Linked DNA regions of Homo sapiens. The protein of the gene in region 1 purifies or fractionates together with the protein of each later gene. This does not show direct contact. Each region holds a gene or a part of one and is shown on either strand. Other genes may lie near its edges.

Region 1 (9,328 bases):
CATATTCATCATGTCTAAGCCCCACAGTGGCCGGTGTGGGCAGGATGTGAGCATCCTTGACCCAGGAAGAGCCAAGCACCCAGGTTCCTGTCACCAGGAGGAGGTAAGGTCCTTGCCAGTCAGTGCCCAGGTCTGAGCAGAGGGGCACTGACATCTGAGAAGGAGTCACCTGCCAGCCACCCTCCACCCTCTGTCCAGCTCCCCAGATCCCCCAACAGGCCCCCCAGGCCTGGCTTGACCCTCTCATTCCAGGCCATCCCCCATCAGGCCCCACTCCATACCCTCCACACACACATAGGGAAACATATTTATGACAAAATCATTTTTTATTGAGTTGGGTTGGAGACGGGAACAGGGAATGCACTGGGGGCCATACCCCGGTTGGCAGAGGGGTGGGGTGTTGGCTCGTGCCCCCCCTCCTTTAGGGCACCGCAGGGTGAGGCTTGGCCCCCAGGCCATGGCTGTGGCCCTGGACGCCAGGCTGGAGTGGAGCTGGGGTTGCATTCTGGTCCCAGCTGCCTGGCCGGGCTGCAGTTTTCCCCAAATGGCCACCAGAGGGCAGTCGGACCCCAGCGCAGAGGAATTTTTGGTTGCTCAGGTGATGGCTTCTTAAAAAAATAAAAAACCAGAGGCTGGTGTGTTCCCCTTCCAAACCCGAGGAGGGCAGGCCTGGGGAGAAGGCTCTGGTTTCTATGATCTCTTCGATAAAAAATAATCCAAAATAATAACAAAATACGTGGTTTCTCTTTCACCCTTTCCCCCCTCCAGGAACTGAGGTCAGAAATGGGGGTGAAGGGACAAGGGATACCCTGGTATGGCCTGGATATCAAGGTGTGGGCCTCTTTTTTGCCCCTTACCACCCATAAGTAAATTTATAAATAAATAAATCAATCATAAATAGACACTGTCTTTGTATATGTGCATATATAATCTTTCTCTCTCCTATTTAGGCAACTATGTGACTAATCTCTCTGACTCTTTAGCTCAGAAATTCAAACATAAAGTGACATGGTCAAGGTCAAGTTTGGGGGAAGAGGGACATCTGGGACTTGGAATGGCACTGTAAAACTCCCAGCATTCTGGAATTGCAACCCAGCTGGGCTGTGAGACATTTCTGAGTAGAACACTGACCACCTGAACATTCTGGAACCGTGGAGCCAGCTGGGCCCCCATAGGGATCTGAACAGAACCTTGAAACACCCAATGTCCTAGAACTCCAGAACCAGCTGGGTCTGGGGGGTGTGGAGCTGGGGGTTTGGAAAGAAGCCCTGGAGAGCCTAACATTCTGGAATTCTGTAGTAATCAGGGTTGAAGGGTCATGAAGACTCAGCTAGACATCACTGGGGGAGCGGGATCGGAAGGGGATCTTGGAAGAGGAACAGCAGCAGCAGACAGCCCACAGCACTTTCTGCACATCCTGGTTGCGGAAGGCGTAGATGATAGGGTTGATCATGGAGTTGTAGGTGGCAGGGAGCAAGGTAAGATAGGTGTAGAGAGGTGGAGAGTGGGCATCACCCAGCAGGCAGTAGACAGTGAAGGGCAACCAGCAGGCGGCAAAGGCTCCAAGCACCACGGCCAGTGTGGCAATGCCCTTGCGGGTGGCCACATAGTGGGAGGCAGGCAGCAGGTGCCGCTGAAGGGCAATCTGCTGGGCATGGCGGCAGACGATGCGGCAGATTTGGGCGTAGAGCTGCAGCATGATGCCAAACACCATGAAGAAGGCAATGGCCAGAACTACCAGATGGTTCTTGGAGAGTGGATAAACCACGCCACATGTGGTCAGGCCATCCAGGCAGTTCCAGGCCAGCACAGGCAGCAGCCCCAGGCCCAGGGCACCTCCCCACACTAAGGCCAGCATCACATAGGTCCGTGTCACTGTTGTCTCTGAATAGTAGGTGAGGGCATTGTACAGAGAAAGGTAGCGGTCGACAGTGATGGCCAGTAGACTGCCGATGCTGGCGGTAAAGGCCATTGCCAGCACGCCAACCAGCACCAGGCTCATCTCCGCTGAGCCGATGCAGAAGACAGCAGCAAAGTGCAGGACCAGGCCCAGGCCTGCCAGCAGGTCTGCCACGGCCAGGCTGCCCACCAGCAGGAACATGGGGGCACGGAAGGCAGGAGTGCCCACGATGATGGCCACCACTAGCGCATTCTCGCAGGACACCAGGGTGCCTGAGATGCAGAGCACCACATCCCAGGCCTTAGGCGAGGGCAGTGGTGCGGCTGGACCTGTGGGCCCCTCTGCTGGGCCCACGCTGCTTACATTCACGTTGCCTGAGCCAGCTGAGAGCCAGGCCAGAGGGCTGCCTGCACCCCACATCATGGTACCTGCAGGAGAAAGGCCTTGTGAGAAGCTGACCAAGCTGGGTGATGGGAGTTGGGGTCTGGAGGGGGTGAGGTGCTTCTCAGGATACGTGGTGGGAGTCTCTCCTCAGGATACCTGATAGGGTCCCAATGCCTTATCCCCACATTCATGCCCTGGGGCTCTTCCCAGGATACCGCTGTCCCCTCCAATGCCCCCAGGCCTCTAAACAGGGGTCTCTTCCTGGGGATCCCTGTCCTAGGTCCTGCAGGTCTCTTTTTCCCACGTGTGTGACCAGAGGAGAGACAGAAGAAGGGGTACTATAAGTGGAAGAGGGCCATAGGATCCAGGGGATGCCCCCGAAGGCTCAAGATTGGGGTAGGGAAACATCTACCCCATCAGGGAGACTGAGCAGCTCCGCTCCCTCCCATCAGAGATGATGATGCTAGCTCGTGCCTGAGGCTCCCAGACCCCTCACGATTTTCAGTACTGCCAGCCTTAGACTCCGCCCCCAGGGAATGCGCGTGAAGCTCCCGCCAGCCATCACCCCGCACTCCCGCGGTAACACCTGGGAACTCAGCCCCCCACCCCCCACCCTCCCAGACTTCTGTTCCTGGCTGGACCCTTCTTTCCGCCTGAATCTCTAGGTCTCTGGGCAGACCCCCCTGCTGGAAGACTGGATCCCTGAGTCAGATGCCTCCTTCTGCCCGGACACCTGGATTTTGGGCCTGACTCTGCCTCCTGCCTGGATACCTGGATTCCTAAATTGGACACCTCCTGCTGTTCGGACCCCTGGGTCCCTGCCCCAGACGCCTCCTGCCGGCTTAACCTCAGATGACCATCAGTCCCTCCAGGGCCTCGGGTCCCTGCAGGAATGCTTACCCTTCGCCGGGTCATCCAACTCAACCCCAGCACTCGAGCACTTGGGCCCAAGCCTGCTAACCCAGAATCGCCTAAACCCAGAATTCCCACCTCGAACTCGAACCCCGGCCGGCCACTAGGAGCCTTCCGCCGGCCCAGTGCCCCAGCATCCTGCGTGCCCTTCAGGACCCCTGGTGCCCGCGGCGGGGCCCGCTACTCACCGCTCAGGACCAGGCGCGGCCGGGCCGCGGGGAGGCTCCGCTCGGGTCCTGGCGGCGCAGGGCGTGCGTGGACCCCGAGAAGCCCCCGCGGCCGCGGGAGAAGCGGCGTGAGTCACCCCGCCCCGCCCCCGGCCACCGGTTCGGTGACGTCAGCGGTCCGATCAGCCAATGGGCGCGGCGCGCTGGGGCGCAGCGCGCGTTGCGCGGCATAGTAATAAGGCCTCGCACCGCCCGCTCCCCCATTCATAAAAAGCGACCGTGGCTGCGGCCCCGCCCCCTCCCGAGTCCGCCCGCGCTGTCCTTGACGCGGCGCCCTCTGCGGGCCGGGGGTTTCAGAGGCGCCGGTGCGAGAGCCTTGAAGTCTCAGAGAGGCTGCAGGGAACGTGGTGGAAGAGTGGAAAGGGGGCCCGGCTAGGCTGTGGGGTGATGGGACCCTTGGGTGGCAGAGAGGCTGACGAGATCCAGGTGACGAAGGAAGAGCTTGTGATGGGGCTGGTTGGGCTTCCCTGGTGAGAATGACAGGGTTTCCAAGATGATGGGGCCCTGAGGTGACGATGACAGGGAGCACGAGGGAGCGGGGAGGTGGGTGGCAGTGACGACATTAGCATGGTGACAGAATCTTGGGGTGGGGGGTGATGGCCGTGGGACGCTAACGGTAGAGGGGAAGCCCTCAGGGCAACCATGGCAGTGTCAGGGTGACTATGCAGCAGGGGGGAGTTCAGGGACCCCGGGATGGCAGAGGCAGCGGCCTGGGAACATGGAGTGTCCAGGTGACTTCAGGTCACCATTACCCTGTCAGAATGGCTGGGGTACTGAAGCGACAATGCTAAGCCATGAGGACTGTGGGGCCCTGGAACGAAGATAGCAGGTGGCTGTGGTGAGTGGGCTCCAGGGTGAGGGGCACAGGGTAGAGGGTCTGGACTGACAGTGACCAGGCAGGTAAGTTGCTGCCAGGGCAAGTCCCGTGATGCCGGGGCTGGGATAAGAGCTGGGTGACGTCACTCATGTCAGCCCAATAGCGCCCTCACAGCACCGGAGGGGTGGGCCTGGCAAGATTTCAAAACCTGAATTATTTATTCCAGTATCTAGAAAGCCAGCGTGGAGGGGGTGAGGGGTGCACTTCCCTGAAGCAGGAGGAGATGGGGAGCCGGGAAGAACTTGGAAGCAGAAAGCCTGGCAGCTCAGTCCTCAGGGCAGGCCCCTCTCAGCCTCCTATTTTAGGCATCCTGATGGGTGGAGCAAGGAGAAAGAGCTCCCTCTTCCCCAACGCCATCTGCCCTTAGTCCAGGGGAACCACTCTGGGCAGACTTCTCCAGATGTGACAGATGTGGCCAGTCCTGCGGCAGGGGGACTGGCTGCTCCTTCTCCCTGTGTCTCTTGCCTTGATGCTCCCTGGAATCATGCAGGCCTGTGGGAGGGGAAGATGAGGTTAAGAGGCCTGAGGATCCCAGGCCCCACTGGACACCCCCATCACAGCACCATCACTGCAGCCCCCATGGTCAGCCTCCACCAGGCAGGTTTTGGGTTTGAGTGTGAGGCAGCAGAAGGTCAAGTGGCAGGGAACATGGGAGGAGGAGGGGGTCGGAGCTGGAGAAGAGGATTCATTTCAGGTTGGATGTGGTGAGTTTAGGGGGCTTAGGGGGTGGAAGTGTCCAATCTCAGTTTCTCCATTTCCTAGCTGGGTGACTTTGGAGAGTTTCTTCAGCTCTCTGTGCCTATTTCCTCATCTAAAACACAGGGATAATATTAGTACCGGCCTCATGGGGTTGTTGAGTGGGTTCTACTTGCCATTGGCCATCAATGTTACAGCTGGATAATGAGGGACACCTGGGAGGTGTAGGCATGCAGGTGGCAACTGATGTTTTAGGGGTAAATAATGTCACCCAGGGGCGGGAGCAGAGAGTGAGGAGTGGCTTCAGGGGCTCCTCCTCCTGGGCTCTTGCACCTGACCCCTCTGACAACAACCCTTCTCTTCATCCAGGTCTCTGCTCCCGAATTACTTCTGAAACAGGCTGCTCTGAACTCTCAGATCGCCACTGGCCTCCCCATCACTCTCCCTCCCCTTCTCTTGATTTATTCATTTTTGGAGGATGAAGCACTCTTGAAATTATAAATGAATTCATGTTTGTTTGTTTTACTACATGTCAGCCCCACTAGAATCTAAGCTCCAAGAGGATACTGACTATGTCCCATTTCTGCTAGAGAACAGTGCCTGATATGTAATGGGTATTGAAGAAATAATCATGGACTGGATGATTGACCTAAAAGGGAACAACCAGAGGAAAAAAGGAAAACAGAGAGAATAGTAATATGCCTGGTGCCCAGGAAGGTGGGGGTGTCAGAGAGAGGATCCAAGGGCATCAGGGCCCCAAGACTCAGGGTCAGGGATCCATTTACTCCCCCATCAGAGCTGGGTCCCTACAGAGTTCTGGTCTCTGCGATGGGTGAAGGCTGCTGGGAGGTTGGCATCAAAGGGGGGTATCAGGGACTATCTTCTACTACTCTGAATGGCAATTATATATTTTTTAAGTTTTCGTAGCTTATTGATCCTCTGGTGAAAAATCTTCACCATTGCTGCAGATAAAGCCATTCCTGTTTGCCAGCACCAGCACCACACTCTTGTGACTCCCTGGCTGTCGTCATTCTGTTCTTGAGTTCCTTTAGCTGTTTTCTTGAGGTCTTTTTCTTTTATGTCTTGCAAGTCTGTGTTTGGATTAATTTTTCTTTGCATAATCCAAGGAATCATAAATCATAACCAAGCCAGTTGTCTTAACACCACCAAAATGGGTTCTGTCTTTTTTTTTCGTTTGTTTGTTTTTTGAGACAGGATCTCAGTCTGTCACCCAGGCTGGAGTGTAGTGGTGCAATCAATGCTCACTGTAGCCTCAACCTCTTGGACTCAAGCAATCCTCCCATCTCAGCCTCCACAGTAACTGGGATTACAAGCACGTGTCACCACGCCTGGCTAAGGCGTGTAATTTTTGTAGAGACAGGGTTTCGCCACATTGCCCAGGCTGGTCTTGAACTCGTAGGTTCAAGTGATCTGCCCACCTTGGCCTCCCAAAGTGCTGGGATTACAGGCATGAGCCACTGTGCCCAGCCCAAAATGGGTTCTAAATACAAAGATGAAATCCAGAGTGGTCTTCTACTTTTTGACTAGTTTTCTGTCTTAGGTATTGTTGTCTTCCCAGGGTGAAGGACACGGAAGACCATCATTTCCACTGAAGTATTGGTCATGAACTTCCTGATCCTGATAGTTATCCTGTTGTTTGCAAGGGAAGTTGATCCTAAGGCAGCCAGAGAGGAAAAGAGAGTGCAGTGACATTTCTTTTCTTTCCTTTTTTTTTTTTTTCCGAGACAGTTTTATTCTTGTTGCCCAGGCTGGAGTGCAGTGGTGCAATCTCGGCTCACTGAAACCTCTGCCTCCTGGGTTCAAGCGATTCTCCTGCCTCAGCCTCCCAAGTAGCTGGGATTACAGGTGCCCGCCACCATGCCCAGCTTTTTTTTTTTTTTTTTTTTTTGTATTTTTAGTAGAGACAGGGTTTTACCATATTGGTCAGGATGGTCTTGAACTCCTGACCTCAGGTGATCCACCCTGCTCAGCCTCCCAAAGTGCTGGGATTACAGGTATGAACCACCGCACCCGGCATGCAGTGACATTTCTAACCCCGAGAAACCCAGGAGAGCCAAGAGACTAAAGGGGGGCTATGGGTTTTCACGTGAACCTCATGTGCTCTCCCTCACGCACCAAAAGTGCTCATACCAATCAGGTCTCCATTCCCCGCATACTTGCTCTCTAAAGGAAGAGATAGTTCCTTCTCTCCTATTCTCCTCATGCCCTCTGTCCCTACCTCCTTGACACCTCCTCCAACCCTTCCCACCTACCAGGTGCCCAGCCAGAGCCCAAGGCTTACAACAACCTGCAAAAGTGAGGGACCATGTCTCCATTTCTTGGGTGAAGCCCAGGAAAGCCAAGGGACTTGCCCCAAATCACATAGTAAATGGCAGAGCTGGGATCTGAAGCCAGGTCCATCTGTCACCAAGTCCAGTGTGCCTTCCATTCTGGCCTAGATGTCACCTTCTTCCCAGAAGGGGCTGAGGCTAAAGTTTGACTAGGGCTGACAATACCTGCAGTTCTCCAGGTGGCCACCAGATGGCTGTGAGGACTCACTTCCAGGTGAGACTTTTATCCTTGCCTCTTCTGTCTTCACCAGTTGGAGAAATCCCTTGGGGAGGGAGGAATTGGCGGGGAGGGGGTGTTCGTGCGTGTGTGCTTGTGTGTGTGTGTGTGTGTCAGTCATAGATAATCCCCACACCTGAGTCCCTTGTCTAAGACCCAAGGGTCTAGGCATCATCAGTGCCCATATTCTTAGCATAGACCCATTCATTCAGCCATTATTTACTGGCAGTTCCCCTGGGCTTAGGGTTTGTTCAGTGGGTGCTAGGGACAGAAAGATGATCTGGCCAAATTCCTGCCTTTTCAACAGTCAATAGACACATTTATTGAGCATCTTCTATTTCCCGGGTACAGAGAATACAGCAGTGAACAAAAATCCCTGCCATCTTCAATGAGCTTCAGTTTTATTAATTAATTTATTTAGTTAGTTATTTTGAGACATAGTCTTGCTCTGTTGCCCAGGCTGGAGTGCAGTGGTGCAATCTCAGCTCACTGCAACCTCCGCCTCCCGGGTTCAAGCGATTCTCCTGCCTCAGCCTCCCGAGTAGCTGGGACTACAGATGCATGCCACCACGCCTGGCTAATTTTTGTATTTTTTAGTAAAGACAGGGTTTCACCATGTTGGCCAGGCTGGTCTCGAACTCCTGGCCTTAGGTGACCTGCCCACCTCGGCCTCCCAAAGTGCTGGGATTACAGGCATGAGCCACTGTGCCAGGCCAAGCTTCAGTTTTAATCTGGAGGGATGGACAATCTACAAATAGATCCTTAAAATCTATTCAAGTAGGGAGCTCTTGGGGGCCTCACAGACCAGTGGGACAAACATGTACACAGATGGTCACAACATGGCATAGTAAGTAAGGTTACTTAATAAACATCTGGCTGGGCATGGTGGCTCACGCCCATAATTCCTGCACTTTGGGAGGCCGAGGTGGGTGGATCACCTGAGGTCAGGCGTTCGAGACCAGCCTGGCCAACGTGATGAAATCCTGTCTCTACCACAAATGCAAAAAATTAGCCAGGCATAGTGGCAGGCACCTGTAATCCCAGCTACTCAGGAGGCTGAGGCAGGAGAATCACTTGAATCTGGGAGGCGGAGGTTGCAGTGAGCCGAGATCACCACTGCACTCCAGTCTGGGCAGCAAGAGCGAAACTCCGTCTCAACAAACAAACAAACAAAAACCCCAACATCTATTCAGCCCTTACTGTGTGCAAGGAGTTCACTAAGGAGGGAAGATCAACATGGTTCCTGCCTTCATGAAGCTTACAGCCTAGGAAACAAATGAGTAATTAATTATACATTAGCTACCTGCTCTGAAGAAAAGAGCAGCTGTTGGGATGTAGGATCACCAGGTGGCCTCTTTTAGGGAGGGAGGTCATGGAACAAGTCACGTGAAGAGAGAACAGGAGTCTTAAGGAGAGGACACGACAAGTGTAAAGTCCCCAAGAAGAGAAAGCATTGATGGGTGTGAGGACCAGAGAGAGGAGGCTAGTGTGTCTGCAGCTAAATCAGCAAAGGGGAGAGGGAGGAGAGGCGAGGTGGGCAGAGGCAAGATCATGTGAGACAGAAGGGAGCTCTTGGGGGCTTACAGACCGGTGGGACAGACAAACATGTACACAGATTGTCACAACATGGTACAGTAAGGTTACTTAATAAACATCTGGCTGGGCACAGCGGCTCATGCCTGTAATTCCTGCACTTTGGGAGGCCAAGACGGGTGGATCACCTGAGGTCAGGAGTTCGAGACCAGCCTGGTCAATATGATGAAA
Region 2 (9,566 bases), on another chromosome or scaffold:
GCAATGCTGTGTGACTGGCCTCAGGCTCCAATGCCTGGGCCTGTCTGTCCTCTGCAGCCGCCACAGCGATGCTCTGTGAAGTATCAGCCAGCACCTGGCACTGTCCTGCTCTGAACACTTCGCAGCCTCTCTCAAGCAGGGTTCCAGAGCCTGAGGCCCTAATGCTCTCAGGCAGCCAGTGTATGCAACTAAGGAGCTGCTCTCCCAGGATGAGGTGCCTCCCATCCCTGGGAGAACTGAACAAATAATCACTCTAGTCACTTCTGCCTTCCAGGGCTCAGGTGAGCCCCAATGAGAAAGGCTCCTCCACAGGCTTCCAACTAAGAGTAAGGCAAAATCTCTCCGTGACCTTCCAGACTCTCCATGAGCCAGCCCCTCCGTTATTTCTTGGAACTCATCTACCATCTTCTCTCCCTCAGTAACTGCACTGGCCACACGGCTTCTGTGCAATCCTGCATTTGTCCTAGCTGGCCCCGATACTCAGAATGTCCTTCTTGGCTGGGTGTGATGGCTCACGCCTATAATCCCAGCGCTTTGGGAGGCCAAAGCAGGAGAATAGCTTGAGCCCAGGAGTTCGAGACCAGCTTGGGCAACACAAAGAGACCCCGCCTCTACAAAAAATACAAAAGTTAGCCAGTTGTGGTGGTGCATGCATGTAGTCCCAGCTACTCAGGAGGCTGATATGGGAGGACTGCTTGAGCCTGGGAGGCGGAGGTTGCAGTGAACGAAGATCGTACCACTGCACTCCAGCATGGACGACAGAGTGAGACCCTATCTCAGGAAAAAAAAAAAAAAAAATGCCCTTCCCCAGGCAACTCTTCTCACCTGCCTCCTTCAGGTCTTTATTTCAGTATCACCTCTTAGTGAGGGCTTTCCTGACCACCCTACTAAACTCTCCAAGCTTCCCTCAGCCCCTTCCCCACTGCTTCTTCTAAACAGGCCTTAATCACCTGCTGACACACGAAGACTTAACTTGATTAACTGTCTGTCTCCCCAGCTAGACTGAAAGCTCCAAAAGGGCAGGGCCTCCTGTCCAGGGCCCTGAGATGTGATATCCCTAGTGCTGGGAACGGTGCCTGGCACAGAACGGATGCTCAAAAACTATTTGTGAATGGATGAGCTAATGAATTTTTAATCCACTGACTGTTCCGTTCACTCCCTTCAGCCATTCACTCATTCTGAGAATATTTATGGAACACCTCCTCTGGACCAGAGAGAATGAGACAGAAGCCAAGAGCAGTCCCTGCCCGCGGATAAGGTCGTTTACTGGTATCTCCTCGTAGGCCAAGTTGGCCCAGGACTGAGCAATCTCCATGTATGATTCTACAACAGCGGTCCTGCAAGGTAGGAACTGGAATCCCATTTTGCAGAGGAGGAGAAGTGAGGCTCAGAGAATGGTCACCTTCCCAAAGTCACATGATGAGTAAATGGTGCAGCAGGGCTTTGAATCCAAAGCCTCCAGAGCCCAGAACTCAAAGAGCAAGGGCATCAACTAAGTCCCGACTTATTTACTAGCCTCAATTCTCTAATCTGCAAAATGGGCAGCACACTTCTGTATCCACTGGTTGATGAAAACTCAAAGAATGGCCGGGCGCGGTGGCTCATGCCTGTAATCCCAGCACTTCGGGAGGCCGAGGTGGGCGGATCACAAGGTCAGGTGTTTGAGACCAGCCTGGCCAACATGGTGAAACCCCATCTCTACCAAAAATACAAAAATTGGCCGGGTGTGGTGGCTCACGCCTTTAATTCCAGCACTTTGGGAGGCCGAGGCGGGCAGATCACGAGGTCAGGAGATCGAGACTATCCTGACTAACACGGTGAAATCCCGTCTCTACTAAAAATACAAAAAAATTAGCTGGGCGTGGTGCTGGGCGCCTGTAGTCCCAGCTGCTGGGGAGGCTGAGACAGAAGAATGGCGTGAACCCGGGAGGCAGAGGTTGCAGTGAGCCGAGATCGCGCCACTGCACTCCAGCCTGGGCGACAGAGCGAGACTCCATCTCAAAAAAAAAAATTAGCCAGGTATGATAGTGCGCACCTGTAGTCCCAGCTACTCAGGAGGCTGAGGCAGGAGAATTGCTTGAACCTGGGAGGCGGAGGTTGCAGTGACCCGAGATTGTACCACTGCACTCCAGCCTGGGCGACAGAGTGAGACTCCGCCTTAAAAAGAAAAAAAAAATTAAAAACAATAAAAATTACAATTACAATTAAAAAAAAAAAAAAGAACCGGGCATGGTGGCTCACACCTGTAATCCCACCACTTTGGGAGGCCGAGGTGGGCAGATCACGAGGTCAGGAGATCGAGACCATCCTGACTAACACGGTGAAACCCCATCTCCACTAAAACTACAATAAATTAGGCGGGCGTGGCAGCAGGTGCCTGAAGTCCCAGCTACTCAGGAGGCTGAGGCAGGAGAATGGCATGAACCCGGGAGGTGGATCTTGCAGTGAGCAGAGATCGCGCCACTGCACTCCAGCCTGGGTGACAGGGTGAGACTCCATCTCAAAATAAATAAATAAAAGAAAGAAAGAAAGAAAGAAAACCCAAGGAGTAAAGTATTCAGCACAAGGGTAACACAGCACAGGGCCTGGGTACAGTAAAGGCAGCTGTCATTAGCTGCTGTCACCCCATTCTCCATCTCTCCCTGGTCCTGCCCCTCTCAGGCCTACACTGTTCCGCAGGCAGCTGCATCCTAATGGCATATAGTGGGTAGGTGAGAAGGCAGAGAAGTTGGGGGCTCTGGGGGCTGCAATCACCTCCTCATTGAACAGCTTGCTGGTGTCCTTTTTGATGAGATCCAGGTACTGCACTTGACCCGCTGAGAAGCCCACCAGCAGCGAGATGGTCTCGGTGGCAGCAGTGAACTGGTTGAAATCGTGGCAGGTGGGCTGGGTGCCCTTGTAGATCCGCTTGTCAATTGGCTTGTTGAGGTCAATGGACTTGAGGGGTGGGAGAAAAGGAGTTAATGGTGTATGCCACTGAGGAGAAGGAAGAGGATGTTGAGGTTGGGGGAAACCACTAAGAGGAAGCAGGGTTAGAACCCAGAGGGAAGTGGGGAGGTGAGTAGGTGGATTGCGAAGGACGGGGCAACCACAGACGGGAAGGGGACCCAAATCACAGACAAGAGTAGCAAAAAAGATGGTAAGGATCCCCCTTGACCACAGTGCCTCCCCAAAGTTGGGTCACCTCTAATTCAGAGACACCCTTGTCCACATAATCAGGGTTCTGGGTCCACACAGTTCCTAAGCTCCGATTCCTTTTAGCCTCACCACTCCATCCTATAACCTCAGCAACTCCCTTGGGACCTAGTACCACACTATTCCAAGACCCCCAAACCTTGAGGTCACCCAAATTTCCAGGACTCTAAAGCCTAACATCCTAGCATTCTCTTCACTTTGTAGTCCCTAAACCGCCACAGTTCTGGGACCCGTCAAACCTCACGGTCTCCCACATTTTAGGCCCATTTATTACCTAGGGGCTCCGAAGGATCCCCATCATTTCTGGGATCACCATAAACGGCCAGGGTTCTCACCACATCGCTTTAGAGATGTCCTGAATCACACCTGCAGATTCCCCTGCCAGGGCCTCTCATTCCCTTGAGAGCTCCCATCAGCTTCCGGACGCTCATCTCCTCCAGGACCCTCATGACTTCCAGACCCCAATTTTCTCTAGAATCCCATTCAGCTTCTGGATCCCCTATCACCTTCAAGGCCCCCATCACTTCTAGACTTCTCCTCATTCCTGGGCTCAATCTCAAGACCCCTCTCCCACACCTCCAGGCTGCAATACTGGGTTCTCCATCACCTCTGGGCTTGCATCACCTCATGATTCCCCATTACCTGCAGAATGCCTGCCACCCCAGAACCCGGGGGATCCCACCTCATCTCAGATACCCCATCATGTCCAATAGTCACCATCCCAGAACTCCTACGCATAACGGGGGTAAAGGGGATTTCCCCCATCACCTCCAAGATGCCTGCCCAGCACCCCGCGGGCCTCTCATCACATTTCAGAATCCTGTACTCCCTCCAATGCTGTCGCCCTACAACGTCCATCACATTTAGAATGCCTATCTCAGGGCCCCATATCAATTCGGGGACCCTCCTATCAGTTCTCTGGAACCTCCATCCTTTCAGCACCCAGGGCCCCACGATGCAGGCCGCTCACCCGTTGGCTCCCACGACGACAGCAGCCTGGGTAGAAATAGAGCTCACGGCCCAAGTTGAAGCAGACGCGGTCTCCCCCCGAGCCCAGCCCCGCGGGCGTGGCGGGCGGCTCCCCGGCCCCGGCGCTGTCCGGCTCCCCGAGGCGCACGAGGCTGAGGCGCACGGCGGGCAGGGCGGGCCCGGGTCCGGGGCCTGCGGGCGGCGGGGACGACGCGGGGCCTGCAGCGCCGGGACCGGAGGCGGAGGCAGGGCCGGGCGGGGGCTGCGGTGGCTGAGGCGGCACCGGAGTCTGGGCGGAAGCCGGACCCGACCTGCGAGCGGCGCCGTCGCCCGGGAGTAGCTTGTAGAAACCCTCGCGCGTGCGGAATTGCGACTTAATCTCCGCGCAGTCCCCCATGGCGGCGCCGGGGCCCGAGCCGCCCTCCGCGCCGCCCGCCGCCATCTTGGGCGCCCCCCGGGCCCCGCCACTGCCGGACTGCCGCCCGCAGCCGGGCCCCCTCCCGGAAGCCGCTGGCCCGCGCCGGAAAAGGTGGGGTCGTCGCCCGGGCAACGCCTCTTCGATTGGCACCCAGATCCGGAGGCGGGACGAATCCCCGCGGTCGCTCGGGTAACGGTGCTGGGACTGTGGGCGGGGCGAGAAGGTGGGCGCGGCCTTTGAGCCTGTGACCGACTTGTGGTTGGCTGCGGGGGCGGAGCCCGCAATGGAAAGAGGCGTGGCCAGTTAGAAAGCTCAAGTCCTTAGCAACCGCGCCCTGGGAACGTTTGCCTAGCAACGGAGGGATTTTTTTTTTTTTTTCCCCCACGACAAAGAAGCCCTCATCCATAGTCCAGCCTTCCCATGAAGTCACAGCCAACCCCAAGTGACCCTGGTCTCTCCTTAGACGCCCAATATACACTCCCCTGACCTCCAGTGTTTCCCACTGACATATTCAAATCCCTGAATGACCACAGCATCTGCTACCATTCTTCCCCACCCTTGGTGACCCACCAAATCCCTGTGTCCCCACACAACTCAGAGGACTTCCTCTGACCCACTATTGATTAATGCTAACTCCAAACATCCTTCATATTTTCCACCAACCTCCAATGTATATTTCCATGATTTTCTTATTTTCAACAACCTCACTTGTCCTCCAAAACCTACCTCTGATTCCCAAATTGTATTGATCCCCACGGTGCCCCAGTGTCCCAGTGATCCACTCGTAACCCAAAGTCTCCCCCTGATCCCAACAGCTCCTACTCATAGCCAGTGCTCCCCATGTCTGCTGAAGCCACCCAGCCCCATCATAGATCTTTCTAGTCTCATGTAGTCAATGGCCTCTACGATTTCTCCCTAGAGTGTCCCAAGGGCATCTCACACTTAAAAAAAAAAATCCTACAATGGTTCGGGCATGGTGGCTCATGCCTGGAATCCGAGAATCCCAGCACTTTGGGAGGCTGAGGTGGGAGGATCGTTTGAGCCCAGGAGATCAAGACTGCTATGAATTCACATCACTGCACTAAAGCCTGGGGGACAGAGTCAGACTCAGTCTCTCTAAAAAAAAAAAAAAAAGAAAGAAAAAAGAATCCTACAATGAAATTGACGTCTTACACCAAATCCTCCACCTCTCTTGCATCCCCACCTTAGGGCTAGCTCTGCCGTCCACTCAGTCAACCAGGCCACAGACCTGGGTGTCTTCCTAGATGTGTACCATTTATCTTCACTCTGCCCCCGCTTACAGCCTCCAAGTCTTTTGCATTCGACCACGTGGAATTCCTCTTTCTCAGTTCCTTGTTCTCCCTGATCCAAGCTTCTCCTCTACCCAAGCCCTTCCCCCACCCCCACATCAACCGTGTCTCTTGGTCTCCCAGATTTCTGTCTCACCCCCACTTCCACCTTTCACTTGGCATGTAGAGAGGTTTTATTTTGTTTTTGTTTTTGTTTTTTTTGAGACAGTCTCACCCTGTCACCCAGGCTGGAGTGCAATGGCTCCATCTCGGCTCAGAGACGGGGTTTCACCATGTTGGCCAGTCTGGTCTCGAACTCCTGACCTCAGGTGATCCACCCACCTCGGCCTCCCAAAGTGCTGGGAGTACAGGCATGAGCCACTGCACCCGGCTTTTTTTTTTTTTTTTTTTTTTTTTGAGACAGAGTCTCGCTCTTGTCACGTGGGCTGGAGTGCAATGGGACGATTTTGGCTCACTGCAACCTCTGCCTCCTGGGTTCAAGTGATTCTCCTGCCTTAGCCTCCTGAGTGGCTGGGATTACAGGCACCTGCCACCACACCCAGCTACTTTTTTGTAGTTTTAGTAGAGACGGGGTTTCACCATGTTGGGCATGCTGGTCTCAAACTCCTGACCTCAGGTGATCCGCCAACCTTGGCCTCCCTAAGTGCTGGGATTACATGTGTGACCCACTGCACTAGGCCTAGAGAGGTCTTTCTAAAGCATGAATATGATCAGGGCCCTCCCCTGCTCAAAACCCATCTGTAGCTCCCTAGTGCTCTCAGGGGAAAGTTAAGCCCCAAGTGATCTGGCCCCTGCCAACCTCTTTTCAATCTCATATCTCACCACTAACTCCTCACACTATCCACCACCTAAAATGAGGCTTGAAAAACTACCCCAACATATCACACTCTCTCTTGTCCTTGGGTCTTTGCACATTCTGTTCCCTATTCTTGGAATGCCTTTCCCCATTCTTTTCTTGACCCTTTAAGAGTTGGCTCGGGAGCTCTGTCAGTCCTCTGGGCTTCCCCATTTGGGCTGTCACTGTCTGGAAATGAGTCTCTCTCCCTATAGTGTTGTGAGGTCCAGGAAGGCAGGACTGCAGCTGTCTGTGTCCCCAGCACAGGGGTGGGCTGACAGGAGGTATTTCAATAATGGTTTGATGGCTAGGTAAATGAATAAATAAAACAGGTGGGGCTGGTCGCGGTGGCTCACAGCTGTATCCTAACACTTTGGGAGGCCAAGACAGGCAGATCGCTTGATGCCAGGAGTTCAAGACCAGCTTGGGCAACATAAACCCCATCTCATAGTGAGACTCTGAAAAATTGAAAAAATTTAGCTGGGCATGGTGGGCTGTGCCTGCAGTCCTAGTTACTCAGGACCCTGTCTCTACAAAAAATACAAAAATTAGTGTATGTGGTGATGTGCACCTGCGGTCTCAGCTACTCCGGAGGCTGAGATGGGAGGACTGCTTGAGCCCAGGAGGTCAAGGCTGCAGGGAGCTGAGATTGTGCCACTGTACTCTAACCTGGGTGACAGAATGAGACCCTGTCTCAAACAACAACAACAAAAACCAAACAGGTGGGAGAGACTCTGCCAGGCAATGTCTGTGCTCTCTGCAGGGCCCAACAGCCCTGGCTTGGAGTCCATGTCAACAGAGGTGGTGAACAAATGAATGAATGGCTCATCCATAATGCCGTGGAGGAATTTTATTTGAAGCAGTTGCCTTCCTTTTCTATCCCTGCCCTCTGGGGACAGGAAGCACATAGTGAAAATATAATCCATGCTAACTACCTCTAAGGGGAAATTTGCTATCTACCTGCTTGGGGAAAGTGGCTAGAGGGTGGGCCTCAGTCATCTGTCTCCTCGCCCTCCTCCTCCTCCTCGCCCTCCTCCTCCTCCTCTGTGGCTCCCAGGGCTTGTTCCTGGGCTGCTTTCAGAGCCTGCTCCTCTTCCACTGTGGGGTCACTCATCTCCATGATCTCTGGGCCACTGGGGTACTCTTGTTGAATGGGGGCTGGCAGGGCCGGGTTGAAGCTCTCGGGGCTGTACTTGTGACCCCAGCCGATGTAGATGTTCTCAAACTTTCTGGAGAAGCAGTGAGACACTGTGAAATTCTCCCTCAAAGGCCCCAGACTTGACTTTTTTTTTTTTTTTTTTGAGATGGAGTCTTACTCTGTTGCCTAGTGCAGTGGTGTGATCTCGACTTACTGCAACCTCTGCCTCCCAGGTTCAAGCGATTCTCCTGCCTCAGCCTCCCATGTAGCTGGGACTACAGGCACGCGTCACTACGCCCAGCTAATTTTTGTATTTTTGGTAGAGATGGGGTTTCACCATGTTGGCCAGTGTGGTCTGGAACTCCTGACCTCATGATCTGCCCGCCTCGGCCTCCCAAAGTGCTGGGATTACAGACGTGAGCCACCGCACCTGGCCAGCCTTGACTTTCTTTAAGGGTAGGACCCAGCATGTGCATAGCATGACTGCAAAGTTGTGGATGGCAGGGTGAAATGTGCTCACTGGGTTCCTCTGTATTACCCAGGCTGGATGCAAACTCCACCTCCTGGGTTCACTGCAAAATCTGCCTCCTGGGTTCAAGTGATTCTCCCACCTCAGCTTCCCAAGTAGCTGGGACTACAGGCACACACCACCTCGCCCAGCTAATTTTTATATTTTTAGTAGAGACGGGGTTTCACCATGTTAGCCAGGCTGGTCTCAAACTCCTGACCTCAAGTGATCTGCCTGCCTCAGCCTCCCAAAGTGCTGGGATCACAGGCATGAGCCACCATGCCTGGCCTAATTTTTGTATTTTTAGTAGAGAGGGGGTTTCATCATGTTGGCCAGGCTGGTCTTGAACTCCTGACATCAAGTGATCTGCCGCCTCCACCTCCCAAAGTTTAAAAATTAGCCAGTTGCAGTAGCACGTACCTGTGGTTCCAGCTACTGGGGAGGCTGAGGGGGGAGGATTGCCGGAGCCCAGGAGTTTGAGGCTGCAGTAAGTTGTGATCATGCCACTGCACTCCAGCCTGAGTGACAGAGTGAGAACGTATCTCAAAATAAATCAAGAAATAAGTAACTAGGCTGGACGCAGTGGCTCACGCCTGCAATCCCAGCACTTTGGGAGGCCGAGGCGGGCGGATCACAAGGTCAGGAGATCGAGACCAGCCTAGCTAACACGGTGAAACCCCGTCTCTACTAAAAATACAAAAACAAAATCAGTGGGGCGTGGTGGCAGGCGCCTGTAGTCCCAGCTGCTGGGGAGGCTGAGGCAGGAGAATGGCGTGAACCCTGGGAGGCGGAGCTTGCAGTGAGCCAAGATCGCGCCACTGCACTCCAGCCTGGGTGACAGAGTGAGACTCTGTCTCAAAAAAAAAAAAAAGAAATAAGTAACTAAAAATAACAAAAAAAATTAAATTATATATGTGGCTCATATTTTATTTATGTGAGACATAATTTTATGTTGGATATCAATTTATTTATATTGTGACACTTTATTTATGTCCAACATATCATGTGGGACATAAATAAAATTGTCTAGGTGCTGGGGACACAGCAGTAAACAAACTAGACAAAACTCCCTGCCAGGTGCGGTGGTTCAGGCCTGTAATCCCAGCACTTTAGGAGGCCGAGGTAGGAGGATCAACTGAGGTCAGGGGCTCGAGACCACCCTGGTGAAACCACATCTCTACAAAAAATACAAA

What was found.
Region 2: the proteins of GPR3 (region 1) and DMWD purify together in Homo sapiens (affinity purification with mass spectrometry; 3 studies listed by BioGRID and IntAct, with this or other methods). This does not show direct contact.

Annotation. Positions count from the first base shown.
Region 1 is NC_000001.11:27,386,794-27,396,121, reverse strand, and holds GPR3 (G-protein coupled receptor 3), read right to left. Parts: upstream 3,501-9,328; 5' UTR 3,385-3,500; intron 2,329-3,384; 5' UTR 2,324-2,328; coding exon 1,331-2,323; 3' UTR 308-1,330; downstream 1-307. UniProt on the Homo sapiens protein: Constitutively active G-protein coupled receptor that maintains high 3'-5'-cyclic adenosine monophosphate (cAMP) levels that a plays a role in serveral processes including meiotic arrest in oocytes or neuronal development via activation of numerous intracellular signaling pathways.
Region 2 is NC_000019.10:45,788,151-45,797,716, forward strand, and holds the start of DMWD (dystrophia myotonica WD repeat-containing protein), read right to left. Parts: upstream 4,696-9,566; 5' UTR 4,607-4,695; coding exon 4,166-4,606; intron 2,938-4,165; coding exon 2,755-2,937; intron 1-2,754. Other genes in the region: RSPH6A (radial spoke head protein 6 homolog A), read right to left, coding at 7,719-7,956. UniProt on the Homo sapiens protein: Regulator of the deubiquitinating USP12/DMWD/WDR48 complex. Functions as a cofactor that promotes USP12 enzymatic activity.